2 linked regions of the Homo sapiens genome follow. The protein of the gene in region 1 purifies or fractionates together with the protein of each later gene. This does not show direct contact. Each region holds a gene or a part of one and is shown on either strand. Other genes may lie near its edges.

Region 1 (3,850 bases):
CTGTCTTCATTTGTTCACAATCAGCTTCTTGCTTGACTCCCTGCATCTGGCTTCCTGTCCTCCATCCCCTGAAAACCACATGCTCTGAGGTTAATGAAAGCCTCTTTGGGGCTTAAATAATGGGACCTCTGCAGCATTTCACTCCCTTGTTCATGAAGTTCTCTTCTCCCTTGGCATTCATGACATCTGTTTCCTGATTCTCTTGCTTCTCTGGTTGTGCCTTCTCAATCTTCTTTGCAGACTCTGCTTCCTGGGCCTATCTCTTAAATATTGAGGTTCCTTGGGACTTGGTGATAGACCCTCCTTTCTCTCTTTACCCTCTCAGGGTAATGTCATCCACGCCCATGGCTTCAGGAACCATCTCTGCACCAACATCCACATTCATGTCTCCAGGCCAGACCTCTCTCTTAGGCTTCAGCGTATCTTTCCAACTGCCAACTGGACCTCTCCACTTGAATTACATCCCATAGGCACCTCAGATTCATCACATTAAACAGTGAACTCTAGCTGGGTGCTGTGGCTCATGCCTGCAACCCCCACGCTTTGGCAGGCCAAGGCAGGAGGATTAGTTGAGCCCAGGAGTTTGAGGCTACAGTGAGCTATGATCATAACACCACATTCCAGCCTGGACAACAGAGTAAGACCCTGTCTCTTAAAAAACAAAAACAAAACTGAAAAAACCTTAAAAGATAAACACCAAACTTATCACCCTCTCATCCAAACTGCTCTTCTTTGAGAGTTTCCAAAGAATCATCTGTTAATTCCTTCTTCTCCCCTAACTCTTCACATGTAAATACCCAGCCACCAAGTTCAGTTGATATCCCCCTGCAAAATTGATTTATCTTGGCCTGTCTTTGCTATTCTCCTAATCAAGGCAGTTTCTTAATTTTCCGTCCTTGCCCTTTAAACTATTTTCCACATAGCAGCCAAAAATGTACTTTTGTCACTCTATACTTAATAGCCCTCACCACTACCAAAGTTTTCCTTTGCTTTTTGGATAAATCCTTCATCCCCTAGCAGGTAAGCGTAAAGTCTAAACTCCTTAATAAGACCAACAAGGCATTGCATGATATATCTTTTGCCTACCTCTCCATCTTGTTTCTTAGCCCTCCCATCACAGTGTCTGATTCAGCCTCCTGATGCAAAAGGCACCATACTCTCTGTAACTCATCCTCAGCTTGAACGTTACTTTCTTTAGGAGTTACTAAAGTTACTTTCTTTAGGAGAAAGGTTGGCCTCCAACCTCTGGACCCACCCCTGCTCCAGATCTAGGTTAGGTAACCTTTGTACTCCTGGAGCAATTGGTGCTTCCTCATCATGGTCTTCACCACTTTACATTGCAGTAATCTATTTATTAGATTGTGGAATCCATGAAGGCTGAGCTGTGACTATTTGTCTTTGTGTCCCCAGGCCTAGCAGCAGTGTCAAGTGAATGCTGAATGAGGGAGTGAGGTGCCTTGAGAACTAAGCCATAAAGTATGGTGGGAATAACCAATACAGGGATAGCAGAAGGCAGTATGAGAAAGGAGAGTAAAGTCTGGCTCTGAGACCAAGGCCTTATAAGTGTCTGCTGTGATAAACAGTTCACTTGAACCACCACCTATAGGATCTTGGGGGCAAATCTCTAGAGCACAGTGGGATGGAAGAGCTAGGACCCCACGGGAGGAAGAGAATCTCAGATTCAGGCAGGGGTATGGCCTCAGCGGCTGCATGCCCAGTAAGTCTGGGAGGGGAACTGAAGCAGGAAGGGGAGGAGTGGGGGAGGAGCTATTGGTCCTTGGACATAGCCCAATCCCCGCCCCTGTGTGACAGTCTGGGAGAGCCCCTAGGCTTGGAGAGAGGTGGAGCCTGGCATCCAGCTACCCCAGCAGGACCCAGCAGACCACTCCCACTCTTCCTCCCAGCCTTTCCCTTCACCAGACAGAGGCTTCAGCTTGCCTCCCGCCTCCTGGTCCTTCCGCCAACCTTCAATCTGTCCTCCCTCCTGCTATGTTTTCCTGGTATTAAGTCTTCAGACTCCAGAACCCATTACAACTGTAGAGAGAACATCAGGATGCCAGTGTCTACATCAGCAGAGGATACTTTCAGGCATGCCCTTCACACTCTACCCAGGCCCACCCTTACACAAACATAAGGCACAGCAACTCAGCCCTTCTATCCCTCCCCAAATCTAGACTCGCTCCTGCATTCATTCATTCATTCATTCATTCATTCATTCACAGTCTTTAGAAAAAGGCTCATAATGCATCCAACAGCACAGACAATGGTGACCTGGTCCTATTCATTGCCTATTTTGGAGTAATCCAGCTGTTGTTCTGCCACCCTTCATGACCAAATCCCTGCCATGTATTGTCTACATCTGCTGTGTTAACTTCATCTCCCATTTACTCTTCAGTCACTCTGACGTGGCTTCTGCCCCTGCCACCCCACCACAGCCAAATCTAGTGGGCACTCTTCAGTCCGTTTCTTACTTCACCCCTTCTTTTTCTTGCACTGTTCTGTTGATTTCTTTGGTTTCACATTCTTTTGGTTTTCCTACCATTTCTCTGGGTTCTCTTTCTCAGAGTCACCTTTGCTGGCTCCCCTCTCTTGTGCCAGGCCCTTTTCTTATCACTGTCTGCCCTCTGTCCCTAGGTGGGCTCATGTCTTCTCATTGCTGAAAGTGCCATTTATATGCTAGTGATCCCAAATCAATAACCAGTCCAGACTTTTCTCTTGAGCTCCTGTATTCTGTTTCTTACTTGACAGCTCTACCTGGACATCAGAGAGACACATTGTACTTAGCATACATAGAACAGAATGCCCCAAATCAGCTCCACCTCAGCTTTCACTGTCTCTATTCATGGCCCATCACTTGCTAAAATGAGAAAGCTAAGTCATAATTGACATCCCTCTCACACCCAGTTCATCTTGATGTCCTTTGGATTTCTCTTTTATTATTTATTTTATTTTTATAGAGATGGGGTCTCATTATGTTGCCCAGACTGATCTCGAACTCCTGAGCTCAAGTGAACCTCCTTCCTCAGCCTCTCGAAGTGCTGGGATTACAGATGTGAGCCACCTTGCTCGGCCAATGAATATTTCTCAAATCAGTCCAGCTTTTTGCTTGTAGCTCAGATGATACCCTACATTATCTTACCCAAAGAACTTTGGTAGCTTCCTAACTGTTTTCTCTGATTCCACTCTGGCTTCTCTTTGTCTTCAATTCTCACAGCTTGCCAGAGTAGCTTTCTAATTTATTTTCACTTATTTATAAACCACATCATCCCCCCCTCCAACTTAGGATAAAATCACTTTTTTTTTTTGAGACAGAATCTCAACTTTGTCTCATGCCAGGCTAGAGTGCAGTGGCACGATTATGGCTCACTGCAGCCTCGACCTCCTGGGCTCAAGCAATCCTCCCACCTCAGCCTCCCAAGTAGCCTGGACTACAGGTGTGTGCCACCATGCCTAGATGATTTTTAATTTTTTTGTAGATATTGGTCTCATTATGTTGCCCAGGCTGATCTCCAATTCCTGGGCTCAAACGATCTTCCTGCTTTGGCCTCTGAAAGTGCTAGTATTACAGGTATGAGCCACTGCACCCAGCCAAAATCACATTCTTAATGGCGGTTATAAGGTCCTTCATGATCTCATCTCTACCTATCTTCCCAAACTCACCTCTTCCTTTTATTGACTTGGCTCCAACCACACAGTCCTTTCAGGTTCTCCATGAGCCTTCTGCCTAAGAACCTTTATCATGCTGTTTCTTCAGCCTAGAATGATTTCCCTTCCTGACTCCCTGTTGTTTCTCACCCTCACCCATACCATTTTTCTCCCATCCACCCAGAATTCTGCTTAAAAGTTACCT
Region 2 (2,533 bases), on another chromosome or scaffold:
ATTGATAAAAAACTAAGCACACCAATCATGTATAAGAAAAGTAGATTTAACATTTTTTTCCCTAAACACTTAACCCAGAAGTTAACAATAATCTTGAAAATTCCTTTTAAATCCAGGCCCTTTAGGTGATGGCAGTTTGACTCAGGATGTCCAAGTCCAGTGTATTTTCAATAAAATTGACTTGACAGCTACTGCTCTGGGTGTAAGAGCAGTTGACTGTGAGGAAAAGTAAATGGTTCTACAGATTCTTTATGATCTACCTCCCACCAGAGGACTGCAGTACTCCCTTGTTATTTATATTTTCTGCCCCAATTTTTGCCTTCTCCACAAATTTTATACCTTTTGTAGCTGCCTACTCCAGATTACTTCACCTTTCCAGACTATCAGTTCTTCCACTTTTATTCTTCATAAAGAAAATTCCAATAACCTGTTTCACTTAGGTTTTTCTATTACTCTTCAAGCATGAATCCTAATTTCCCTGACTATATCTTACCTCTGATCTCCATAACTGATGGATTCCTATCCTAGACTATGTTACTCTAATATTACCCAAGATTTTCTCCAGCCTGTTTTTACTCTTACTTTGAAACAGCTGTTTAAAATGACTCGTAATCTGCTTAAATCTACATGCTTTTTGTGGTTCTCAATCCAGTTACCTACCTTCCAGATAATTCCCTCACTGTCCTGTCCTCTCCATTCCTCTGATGTTTAAGCCCTGTGAGCCACCTTTCCCCCATCCTTTGTGCATAGTTACCATTTTACTCTTTCTTGTTGCCCAGGCAGGAATGCAGTGGTGCCATCTTGGCTCACTGCAACCTCCACCTCCTAGGTTCAAGCGATTCTCCTGCCTCAGCCTCCTGAGTAGCTGGGACCACAAGCGTGCACCACCACGCCCGGCTAATTTTTGTATTTTTAGTAGAGATGGGGTTTCACCACGTTGGCCAGGCTGGTCTCGAACTCCTGACCTCAGATGATCCACCCTCCTTGGCCTCCCAAAGTGCTGGGATTGCAGGCGTGAGCCACCGCCTGGCCACCATTTTACTCTTTTTAGGTACAGTAATCTAATATCCAAAGTCTTGGACTCAGCTAAAGAGGGTATTTACCTTAAAAAAAAAAAAAAAAAGACTCCATCTTTTGATTCATAATTGTGGTGGGGGCGGGGAATCAAGACAACCTTAGTCACTTTGGTATTACCATAATTCTTGTCTTTTCAGGGTTGTCCTGTTCAGCTGCATAAAACATCATGTATTCTAGGTATTTCCTACCTTCACTTACATTTTTACTTGCCGATGTGCTGCCTTCATAAATGGGTATATTCCGCCACACATCTAGTAAGCCCCCAATGCAGTACACAATGTGTATCACTGATAAAACTCGCACTTCTGCCATGTCAGTATTATATTCAGTTGAGTGGTCTTTAGCATAGTGGCAGTCCTAGTCATCCTAACCTTTTAGTTAAGGTAAAATTACATATGTTTATAGAACTCATATAGACAAGCTAGTTTTTAAAATCTTCCTTTTAACCAGTTTAGGATGATCTAGGATAGCTAAGTTACCTACATGGTGACTGTTCGGTCTAATTCAGAAACAGAAGTACTAAAAGAATACTAAAAAGTTTTTACCCATTATCTCTATCCCTGTTTTCTTTTTGCAATTCTCAGCTGCAGGGAGCAAGAAAATACACAGCAGATAGGAAATGTTTGTTTGCATCCTGGCTTTCTCAACCGCACTTTACGTCCTTGAATATTCTAGATATTTACTCCTTCAAGAAGTCAGGAGTATATCCAGGCCTACCTATCATCCTTGCCATCCCCATTAACCCTCATTTTTCAGTATGTGTTTTACATTTATGGTTATTTTTCAGTCTATAGTATCTGTTCACTCATTGCTCTATCACATCTGAGTTTCTCCGTCTTTCTTTCCACTAGATTGTAAGCTCCTTAAGGGCAAGGTCGGCATATAAGCAAAGTTCTGTAAACACCGTGAAGGTACCATGAGTTCTATGGGTACTCAATAAATGCTTGTGATAATGATGCAATTTCTCAGATGAACTGATTGTAGTGACTACCTCTAAAAGCCTTCAATCTACAGTTTTTAAATTTGTCTCATTGCATCTGAGTTTTAGAAAGCCTTCGATAGAAAGGGAAGATACTTCATAGCTTGCCAGATGAATGCCCATTTCCTTATTTCCTTTTCCTCACTTTTGATATTTTGCCCAGTGTCTGGTCTGGATATCTGACATCCATAAGGGTATTGAAATGGATCCTTGTGTGGTTTTCAGATACCAGTTATATATATTATGAAGCAGAGGTAACCTAATATTGTCTAACACTATTGATACAGTTTATATTTTGGAAATACTGTATGGATGATTTATTGAAATAACTTATAATAAGATATTTTACAAGGAAATATCCAAACCACAAAGTTAAGTGATTGCTGTTTTGGTCAGTCAGCTATAGTATGAAATTATTAGAATGCTTTGGTTTATTTATGTATGTGAAGTTATTTTATCCCTATGTGCTTCAGTTTC

Evidence for each region.
Region 2: the proteins of TRIM3 (region 1) and KPNA4 purify together in Homo sapiens (affinity purification with western blotting; 2 studies listed by BioGRID, with this or other methods). This does not show direct contact.

What each region holds. Positions count from the first base shown.
Region 1 is NC_000011.10:6,467,224-6,471,073, reverse strand, and holds part of TRIM3 (tripartite motif-containing protein 3), read left to right. Parts: intron 1-3,550; exon of another isoform or gene 3,551-3,568; intron 3,569-3,850.
Region 2 is NC_000003.12:160,494,507-160,497,039, reverse strand, and holds the end of KPNA4 (importin subunit alpha-3), read left to right. Parts: 3' UTR 1-2,033; downstream 2,034-2,533. UniProt on the Homo sapiens protein: Functions in nuclear protein import as an adapter protein for nuclear receptor KPNB1. Binds specifically and directly to substrates containing either a simple or bipartite NLS motif.